2 separate regions of the Homo sapiens genome follow, and region 2 is linked to region 1. The links come from fine-mapping of genetic effects on gene expression. Tissue or cell type: whole blood. Region 1 holds a variant in brackets; the other region holds the start of a gene. All regions are shown on one strand. Distances are between the middles of the regions. Region 1 overlaps NAMPT (nicotinamide phosphoribosyltransferase). Region 2 holds the start of NAMPT (nicotinamide phosphoribosyltransferase).

Region 1 (5,387 bases):
TTTTAAGCTTTTGAGTGTTTCACACAAGGTATGTTACAGAAGACAAGTGCCTAAGTCAGAACTATGAGAAATATTGCCATCTGACAGGTTAGATTAAAGAAGGAGAGCACAGCATCTGGGAAGACTGAAAAGGGAACCATAGAAATAGGGGAAAAAAGGTGAAACATGGGAGATGTCATTGAAGTCAAGAGAAAGAAAGCATCAGGAAAATTCAGGTGTCATGGAGAAAGCAAGTAAGATGGGGACAGTGAAGTTTGCTAGACATGATACAAGTAGATCGTTAGGTGACTTACTGATACAACGTTATAAGTAGTGACCCCTTAACTGTAGGAGTTAATTCATACGTTGTAAAGTTCTCCAGTATTGGTATTCATTGATCTTAATTCTCTCCTTTTTAAAGAGAAAAGTTGCAGACCTGAATATGAAGAGGAGCTTCTCTTCAGTCATATCTTAATTTTCCATTTAGCCTACAGATGCATGAAGTAGAGAATTGACATCATAGCTACTGGCAGCCTCTGTAGCTGTTAAGAAGAGTGTTCACTAATGAGTTTTATATAAACAGGTTCTCTCTCAATTTTGGATTCGGGTAGTAGTCTTTACAATCTTGAAATGTGCATGCTGCACTACCCCAGGTATACCATTGACAGTATGGGGAAAGGTTCTAAGTCTAGTCCTTTAAAAAAAAAAACACACACACACATTGTATAAAGTGATTATTTCAGACATAAAGTCTGACTCTTCAAACAGTTATGAGTTAAACTTATACCTACTTGGGCTTTATAATAAATGAATGTGCTATCTTTTTATTATTTACTGAGGAGAACAGATTAGAGGCGGACTAGAAAATTAGGGAGAATGACCAATTGCTTGGCATAATTAAATGGTAATTTTCAAAATTAAGTTGTTTGAGATCTTTTAAAATTATTTACATTATATATTAACAAATATTTACACAGGTTGAGCATCCCAAATCCAAAATGCTCCAAAATCTGAAACTTTTTGCTCAAAGGAAATGCTCATTGGAGCATTTCAGATTTCAGAACTGGATTTCAGATTTCAGAACTGGGGATGCTTAACTGATAAGTATAATGCACATATTCCAAAATCTGAAAAAATTTGAAATTCAGAATACTTCTGGTCCCAAGCATTTCAAATAAGCGATACCCAATCTATAATTACATATTGAATACAAATCTATCCCGTAAGAACTGATATTAAGGACATTGCAAAAATCACTATAACCATTCTTATCCAATAGAAACTCTCATACTTTATTTTCCATCTTAATTATGTTTTGCTTAAACTAAGTATTTGAATTCTTATTCCCTGGGCATATATTAATTCGTAGTAGATAATCTGCAAACAAAATACATGACTTCCTATTACTAGCCACTTGAAAATATAACAGGTAGTTGACTATATGTATGTATGGTATAGTATAAATAATTGCCTCTAAGTATAAGATTTTGAAAGGTAAAAAAACAAAATGTATGTCTGTACTATTATTGGTATATAGTTTCAAAAATTCACAGAAGGGAGCCAGGTGCTCTCATTGCCTAACAAAATAATGGAAATATGTATTCATTCTAACATCTTGACATACAGTATAAAGGGCACTCAGCAAGTGCTTTTTAGTTAGACTGATTTTAAATGAGTAGATTCAGGAATACCAGAAAACACACACACACACAGATAATTGGTTGAAAATACGAGGTTAGAAACTTAACCATTGAAGAGGAGTAAGGCTACTTAAAGCGTTAAAAACTAATTGGGTAAGGTATGGTTGACCCAGCTACTTCATTTGCCTTACGATGTATATTCATTAAACTAAGTCACTCACCTTCTCTGTGATGTTGATGGTTTGGTATAGTAAACATGAGATATGATTAAAGGTGATTCAGGGATAGATCAAGTGTCTGCCTAAGTAAATCTGTGTTTTCATTTTTTTTTCTAGTACCATAACAGCTTGGGGGAAAGACCATGAAAAAGATGCTTTTGAACATATTGTAACACAGTTTTCATCAGTGCCTGTATCTGTGGTCAGCGATAGCTATGACATTTATAATGCGTGTGAGAAAATATGGGGTGAAGATCTAAGACATTTAATAGTATC[A/G]AGAAGTACACAGGCACCACTAATAATCAGACCTGATTCTGGAAACCCTCTTGACACTGTGTTAAAGGTAAATTTTCATATGTAACTTTATTATTAGAATCCCTCTGTAGGCCAGCTGCATCAATACTACTTTTCATTTATATACACACAATTTCAGAGCTGTGTGGACCAGTCCCCTTTATTTTAGAGTTGCAGCCCAGAGAGAGTAATAGATTTGCCTGAGGTCACACAGTAATAGCACAGAAGGATACCAAGACTTATGGATTGTTTTACTGTCAATTAGACATTTGAATAGATATTTTGTTTTCTGCTTACCTGCAAAATTAATTAACAGCATTGCCATTTTAATTAATCCTATGATTTGGGCACCAAACTTATTTGCAGTTTGTTTCTTTTTCAGCATAAGTCACTGCTAGACCTTTGAAGTTGTTAGCACAGAAGAAATAGGAACAGGGTGATGTGGAATAAAAATAATTCAAAAATACTCTTCAAGTGGAGGTTCTTTAGAAATACTGTTGATTCATAATGTAGCAGTGTTACTTTTTGTTGTTAATGTTCAAGGACTTGGTTTATCTTCTTCAAAAAGTAGTAATAGCAGGCTTATTTGATGCCTACTACTAGAAAAATATTTTAGGTGATTTACATAAGATACGCCATTTAATCTCTACAAAAAAAAACAGTGATAAATATTACTGTCTCTGTTATAGAAGAAAAAAACAGAGGCTTAAAAAGGTTAAAGTAACTTGCTCAAGGTCACACAACATGAAAGATAAGGAGTCAGATATCCAGTGTAGGTCTTTTGGCTGCAGCCTTGCTACTTGACCACACCATTTGTCAGTTAATGAGCAGATGATACTTACCCCTTAAGAAAGGGAAACAGAATTAAGGAGGTCTTTTCTTATTCTATTAAATGATAGGCCAATCTGAAAGTCTTGTCTTAGCCTGCAATATTTGGTTTTAGCAAACTTGATAGGTTTCATGTTTTTACTGTTACGTAATAAAAAATGTACACAGCTAGTTATGAGAAACTGATTTCATCAATGGGGAATTTTCTCTTTGTTAGAATCTTTAATCAGTTTATTTAGGAAAAAGAAATGATTGTTGTGGGAAGAGAATGTATTTCTTTTGTTTATATGACCAAGCTTTCTGAGAAATTTTAATTTGGTGTACAAAACTTTTAGTAGTTAGTGAATGAGTAAGATGATTTGTGTATTGTGCAGTTTGGCTTTAAGAGCAAAGGAGAACTTAGAGACTATGGGTTCTAGATGCTGTGTCTGCCTTTCACAGTTTCTCTGAACTTTGTGATTGAACTGGATTCATATTGGAGTTATATATCAGACAAAAACCAAAGTCATTGGGCACAAGCAGAATAAGTCCAAATTAAAAGTATAATCATGAGTTTGTTAAATAATGCTTTATATACTTCTTTAAAATATACTTATTTAATATTAAGGATTTTTTTTTCCTTGAATCCATATAATTTGAAAGGTCTAAGGGGAAAAACTTGTTTTGAGCCACTTTATGATGTGAATTCACTTCATAGGAAATAACATGCTTGTTTTTAATGTACTTTAACCCTTTAAAGTACACTGGACCAAATTTTAGAGAGCATATACATAGTGTTATAAAATTTTTAAAGTAGTTAATTTTTATATTCTCGATTATCAAAGCAAAATCATTTAACTTTGAAAAGCTCTTATACTTGTTTTCAGCTTTAGTTATTTGTGTTGCATGTGTATTTTTCCATATAGGTTTTGGAGATTTTAGGTAAGAAGTTTCCTGTTACTGAGAACTCAAAGGGTTACAAGTTGCTGCCACCTTATCTTAGAGTTATTCAAGGGGATGGAGTAGATATTAATACCTTACAAGAGGTATGTGTTTTATATTAAAAGTTTCAATAAGGCATTTCTTATAATTAAGTTTGTTTATGTTTGATAAAGAACACAATATAAATACAATTTTAAGTCTTTGTAAGTGTTTATGTTGGTATAAATCTCTGTGCATTGCTTAAAGTTTAGAAATAATAGTAGTTTAAAATACAGAGGTGCCAGCCAAGCCATACTTACTCTTCCAGTTGTCATTGGCCACCCTGAATGATGAATCTAAAGAAGTATCATTGTGAAACAAGGAAATGTCAGTCAAGAAATATTCCTTGGAATATAAAACAAAGCCTTGACTCTGCTGGCATAGGTCTGAGTTTTCATAGACTGGAGCTTCACAAATCTGTAAAACTCATAATATTAATGGGTGCTTTTTCAGAAATTATAGAATAGCTGCCACCTCTTCTAAATTAAGCATTGACTGTCATCAGTATTAGATTTAGCCAGATAGTATAAGTGTTATGCAGGCGTACCTCATTTTATTGTGCTTTGCAAACATTGCATTTTTTTACAAATTGAAGGTTGTGGCCACCCTGTGTTGAGCAAGTCTGTTGGTGCTATTTTTCCAACATGTATTCACTTCATGTCTGTGTGACACATACTGGTAAATTCTCACAATATTTCAGACTTTGTCATTATATCTGTTATGGTGATCTGTGATTAGTGATCTTCGATGTTACTACTGTGATTGTTTTAGGGCACCACAGGGCACACCCAGATAAGGCAGTGAACTTAATTGATAAATACTGTGTGTGTTGTGACTCCTTCACCAGTTACCCATTCCCTTTCTCTGCTCACTTCAAGTTTCCCTATGCCCTGAGACACAACAGTATTTAAATTAGGTCAATTAATAACCCCACAGTGGCCTCTGAGTATTCAAGTGAATGGAAAAGTCACATCCCTCTCATTTTAAATCAAAACCTAGACATGATTAAGTTTAGTGAGGAAGGCATGCTGAAAGCTAAAATAGGCCTCTTAAGGCAAACAGTAGGCCAAGTTGTGAATGCAAAGGAAAAGTTCTTGAAGAAAAATCAAAGTGCTACTCCACTAAGCATATGAATAAGAAAGTGAAACAGCTTTATTGCTGCTAGGGAGAAAGTTTGAATGGTCTGAATAGAAGATCAAAGCAACCACAACATTTCCTTAGGCTAAAGCCTAATCCAGAGCAAGGCCCTCGTTTCAATTCTGTGAAGCCTAAGAGAGGTGATGAAGCTGCAGAAGAAAAATTGGAAGCTAGCAGAGGTTGGTTCCTGTGGTTTAGGGAAAGAAGCCATCTCCATGAGTGCAGAATGAAGCAGCAAGTGCTGATGTAGAAGCTGCTGCAAGTTACCCAGAAGATCTAGCTAAGATCATTGATGCAGGTGACTAAACAGATTGTCAGTGTAGAGGAAACA
Region 2 (5,387 bases), 22 kb before region 1:
TTTGAATCAAGTGAGGGGGCCCATTTGAGTCTATGTGTTATTATTTGTCATGTTGTTGTGACCTATGAAAAACAGTTTCTCAGGTCCTCTACATGCTACAACCTCCCCGGGCTCAGGCAATCCTCCCACGTCAGTCTCCTTTCAGAGAAGCTGGGACTACAGGCACATGCCACCACGTCCAGCTAATTTTTGTATTTTTTGTAGAGATGGGTTTTCACCATGTTGCCCAGGCTGGTCTCAAAATCCTGGGCTCAAGTGATCAGCCCGCCTCAGCCTCCCAAAGTGCTGGGATTACAGGTGTGAGCCACCACGTCCAACCTTAATGCTAGCTGTTAAACTGTCTTTCAGGGGAGGCCATTTTAAAATGAAATCTTGGCTCTGTTTTCAGTGATAATTTCATAGTTCTAAACCCCAATTAATTCTGAATTGCTCCAGCTTAAGCATGTAGTTACATAGAGAATGTGCCTATTTCTATCTCAGGCAAATGGTGATTGTCCTATTGGTAACATGACTTCATTGTCATTTTTTTTCTCTGGAGACTACTGTGAGGATTCACATTACTAATACTTGTGCAGGCCTCACTCCTTAATTTAACAAGCAATGTCAATACAATATTTTTTCTTTGCACAGATATAAGACCTTTTTATTTTAAAACTGCAAATTCAACTCAAAGATTGCAAGATCAAATTTTGCATCTTAAAAAAATACTACCATAAACAAAGCCCACATTATAATCAGAATCCTACTTTCTTTTCTGCATAAAGCAGCATAGAACAACGGTCATTTATAGATACATGAATTCCAGGAAGCTAAACAAATAAGAATTTGTACTATAAGTAAAGTAGGTTATATAAATTTTAAATGAAGGAAAAAACACCAAATTAAGGACAAAAATTATCTTTTTCCTTCTTTGAATTGCACTCCTTGAAATAATATAAAAAAACTCCCAAAATCAAATATTAAAAAATAATTTGTTTAGGCCGGGCGCGGTGGCTCACGTCTGTAATCCCAGCACTTTGGGAGGCCGAGGCGGGAGGATCACGAGGTCAGGAGATCGAGACCATCCTGGCTAAGACGGTGAAACCCCATCTCTACTAAAAATACAAAAAATTAGCCGGGCGTGGTGGCGGGCGCCTGTAGTCCCAGCTGCTTGGGAGACTGAGGCAGGAGGATGGCGTGAACCAGGGAGGCGGAGCTTGCAGTGAGCCGAGATCCAGCCACTGCACTCCAGCCTGGGCGACAGAGCGAGACTCCGTCTCAAAATAGAAATAATAATTTGTTTAAATGCGTTTACAAATAATTTTCCCCGGTAAAACACAGGGAAGATCAACCAATAAATACATAAGCCCTCTTGTTTCAAACCTCGTTGCTGAAAATAATTGTAAGTGTACTAGTATTTACTACATTGGTGAGTGCCTGGTGATACCTTCCACTTCCATGATCTTTGCCCTGTATTGTATCTACGTGTAGATGAGGTGATTGTCAAAAATATATACTGACTTCAAGACATAGTGTTGACTGAGGTTGTCTTTATTAGAAGTCTCAGCCATGCCTCCAGTTTCGAGATGAATCTCAATTCACAAGTTCCACTATGAATCTCAATTCACAAGTTCCACTACCACCACCACCATCACTGCCCCCAGATAGAATGAGACTTCTAATAACTTGAAAGACAAGTCTATAAATATCCTGTAATCGTTTTCACTGTATCACTTTTTCCTGGCTACTTTTATCCGATAAAAACCTCAATTTATTTTTAAGCTATTAAACATGCGGACAAAGGGAATCTTAGTTTTATGCAAAAACGCAACCACGCATGAGAACTGCGCAAGTCTTTCTTGGAATGGTCTGTATTTGGGTGAAGTCATCAGACGTCATTACACTTCTTTATTTTGGGGTTGCCAACTCGTTTCCCAGGATTTAAAGACTATAACGATGATAAAAGTCAGTGTCGCACCCTGTCAAAGGCTTGGCCCGTTGCCTTTTCCTTCCCGGCAATACTCGGTTCAATTAGGTCTTGTCCCCTCATTATCTGTGAGGACTGAATTCCACCCCCGCTTTTCAACGCAGGCTCTTTGCTCGGGAAAAGTCAAACCATCTCTCAAAGGATCAAAGAGCTCAGCCATAGACAGAGCCGCCGGAGGAAAGCGGAGTCGCTGCATCAGATGAAAGGGGCCCCTCAGCCTCACTCCTCACCGCAGCTCCTGGGATCTTAAAGACAGGGTCAGGAGGATCAGGAGGGACAAGAGGGATGGAGGCGAAAGGCTGGATCCTTAATCCAGGCCGGAGACAAAGGTGAGTAACTGCGCGTGGTGGACGGGAAGATGGGCAGTAGGAGGCTCCTCGCCCCCTAGCCGGGTGGCGTGACTTCAGGAGGACCCAGAAAACCGGCCAGGACTGGGTAGGACGGAAGGTCCCAGGCGGGGCGGGCGAACCGGCTCCTCGTGGCACTGGCAAAGCTGGGAACGCCCCCTCCAGGCCCCGCCCTCCCGCGCCCGTGCCGGGAACTCGAACTTAGGTAAGCGCCCGGGTCACGCGCCGGGGCTGCCCCGCTGCCTCCAGCTTCCCAGAGCTGGCGTCTGGGAGGAAGAGCGCGTGCATCACGTCCTCCTCCCCGCCCCGCCTCCGCGCACTGCGCAGCGCGCTGCCGCGCCCCGCCCTTTCTCGGCCCCCGGAGGGTGACGGGGTGAAGGCGGGGGAACCGAGGTGGGGAGTCCGCCAGAGCTCCCAGACTGCGAGCACGCGAGCCGCCGCAGCCGTCACCCGCGCCGCGTCACGGCTCCCGGGCCCGCCCTCCTCTGACCCCTCCCCTCTCTCCGTTTCCCCCTCTCCCCCTCCTCCGCCGACCGAGCAGTGACTTAAGCAACGGAGCGCGGTGAAGCTCATTTTTCTCCTTCCTCGCAGCCGCGCCAGGGAGCTCGCGGCGCGCGGCCCCTGTCCTCCGGCCCGAGATGAATCCTGCGGCAGAAGCCGAGTTCAACATCCTCCTGGCCACCGACTCCTACAAGGTAAAGCTCGGGGCCCGGGCAGATGAGGAGGAGCGGGGCGCGCTGGGGACGAGCGCGCGGCAGGGGGGCGGGGGCGGCTGGGGCTGGGGTTGGGGCTGGGGCTGGGGCTAGGGTCGCGGCGCGGGGAGGCCCGGGGGAGGCGCGGGCGGCGGCGGCTGGGGCAGGTGAGGAGGCGCCGCAGTGGGCAGGAGGTGGCTTGAGGAGGATGGAGGGCTGGGCGGTGGAGGCGGGGCCTGGGGGCGCGCGGCGGCGGCGGCGCGGCGGGGGGCTGAGGCGGGCCCCAGCGGACTCCCGGGCGCCGGTGCTCGGGGCTCGGGGCTCGGGGCTTGGGCGTCGCCGGCGAGCGCATGCCCTTCCCTGAAGCGCGGCCTCTTGGCCTGGAGCTGGGACCAGTTAGGTAACGGCCCCGGGGACCCGCAGTGGAGAGTGAGCGGGGCTTTCCCCCGGGCCAGCCCGGCGCGCTCGCCCCTGGCTGGGCAGGTAAGTCTCCCGGGGCGCGAGGTGGGAGAAGTCCTGGCGCGGGCGCCGGAGCAGCCGCGGTCCTCTGCGGCTCCGGCGCGGAGGACACTCGCCTGGCCCCGGTAGCCGTAGTGGATTCCCCTGTCCCACTCCGCCGGGCTCCGTTTCAAACTCCTTGGCACCTAGTGATTGCTCGTGCTCCTTATCCCTGGGTGTAGAGGCCGCTCTGCTCTTATCTGCTTTAGGGTCATTACAGGATTTCTGTGAAAAGGAAAATGAAACACGAGGATTTAAAGGAACTGTAGTTTTAACCCTAGAGAACATGTGGAGAGGGAAATGGCACAGCGTTGCGTTCACATGCCCATTGAACACTTGTGTGGGTAGCTGCCACATTCAGTTGATATGAAGCACGCAGTAGTGAAGGGAAGAGGTAAAGTAAATTTTACTTGAGCAGCATAGTGGTTTGGAATACAGTGGTAAAACATAGTACTCTCATGTTTTTGTTTTGATTCTTTTTTTTTCCTTTGTTTTTAGCCCTCCTCCGATATTCCGAGAAAGTATTTTAGAGAATTCCATTTTACTTAAGTTTTGTCTGTTTTTTTCCAATCAGCTTAAAATGCTGTTTATGATATTTAGATAGGTTCTTGAAATCGAGCCAAGATCCATCAACAAGTTGTCTTTTAGATGCAAGTTTAAAGTATTGCAAAATCCGAACACTATCAAGTATGATTCTTGAATATTGTCAAGTATACGTGATAATACCTCAAGTATGGTCCTTTACTTGGTCCTAAAACCTCCTCTTGTGTTCTCTTGGTTCAATCATAGTGTTTTCAAAATTTTAAATAGTGATTTTAGAATAGCCTCATTGATAGTTTTGTAGAATTTTTTTCTTAACTAAATCTAAAATAACTGTCAGATTTTTTTTTTACATGTTAGCCAAATGTAAAGGGAGGTTGAATAGTCTAAATTTTAAAAACAGAAGAATGCAACTTCCTTTAGTTTGCAGTTCCTCTAACCATTATACATAAGGAATGTAAAATTACTTTAACATCAGTTTTCTGGGGTGCTTTTAGTTAGAATAGTGAATTATCTTAAAGGTTTCTAATCTAGTGAGCCATACTTAATTGCACTATTAGAATTTGCACCTATTTAATAAATTTTACTTCTGTCAACTTTCAAGTCAGACTGGTGTGTTTTATATCCTTTATAATATGAAACTTCAGAATATTTTCATCTTAGATTTTTCATTTTTTCCCCAAAAGTCACCTCTAGAGGGTTCAATCAAGTCGATATGTTTTATACCAGTGGCTTACCGCAGTATGCTAAAATAGATTGTGTATTCCACAGTCACATTTAAGTCTTAGGTTTCATTTCCCTTATGTTTTTAGGGGTCCTTATAACCTATTTTACATTTTTGTCTTTTTATCTTAGGAAAAAGGACAAAAATGATAATCTTGAGGTTAGAAGTAATGAAACTTATTTAGAAATTACACGAGAATGTTACATATCCTTATCAGTGCTTACAAACTATTGGCCAAAGTTGGGAACTCTAGTAGTTTCAGATGTGTTGATGAAGAGAGCAAAATATTGTTGATTTCTTCTTTCTAAAACTGAAGAAAGAATAATTGATTGCCTAAGCACTACGAAAGTTATTTTGCAAGTAGATGGTATGGTAGCAAGCACATGACAATGGGAGTTTTGTTTTGTCTTGTATCCTGTCAAGAGAGTCCAGAACTATTTGGACCAAAGGAGCATTTGAAGTATATACATTCACTTCTGTAAACTCATACTTTATTGTATATAGTAAGGAATTAAGGACACTGACGACTGTGGTTCCTCTATTTTCATCGTGGTTCTTGTTAGAAGTAAGGACACCGTTTAAACCGCATTATCCATTAGTTATGAAATGTGCTGTCCGGT

What was found.
Region 2: it holds the start of NAMPT, and the variant in region 1 is fine-mapped to the expression of NAMPT in whole blood (TOPMed, PIP above 0.99).

The regions. Positions count from the first base shown.
Region 1 is chr7:106,260,185-106,265,571 of GRCh38, reverse strand. NAMPT (nicotinamide phosphoribosyltransferase) reads left to right here. Exons shown (of 11, transcript NM_005746.3): 7 at 1,955-2,180; 8 at 3,865-3,984. Among named protein-coding and RNA genes, the nearest start is that of NAMPT, 22 kb to the left of the region's middle. RefSeq lists enhancers at 4,521-5,045, 5,046-5,387. The variant A/G (reference allele first, on the strand shown) is at 2,114.
Region 2 is chr7:106,282,449-106,287,835 of GRCh38, reverse strand. It overlaps NAMPT (nicotinamide phosphoribosyltransferase), which reads left to right and starts at 2,853. Exons shown (of 11, transcript NM_005746.3): 1 at 2,853-3,008. The coding sequence starts at 2,952. NAMPT-AS1 (NAMPT antisense RNA 1) reads right to left here and starts at 2,590. Exons shown (of 1, transcript NR_186647.1): 1 at 1,510-2,590. RefSeq lists silencers at 2,354-2,893, 3,164-3,523.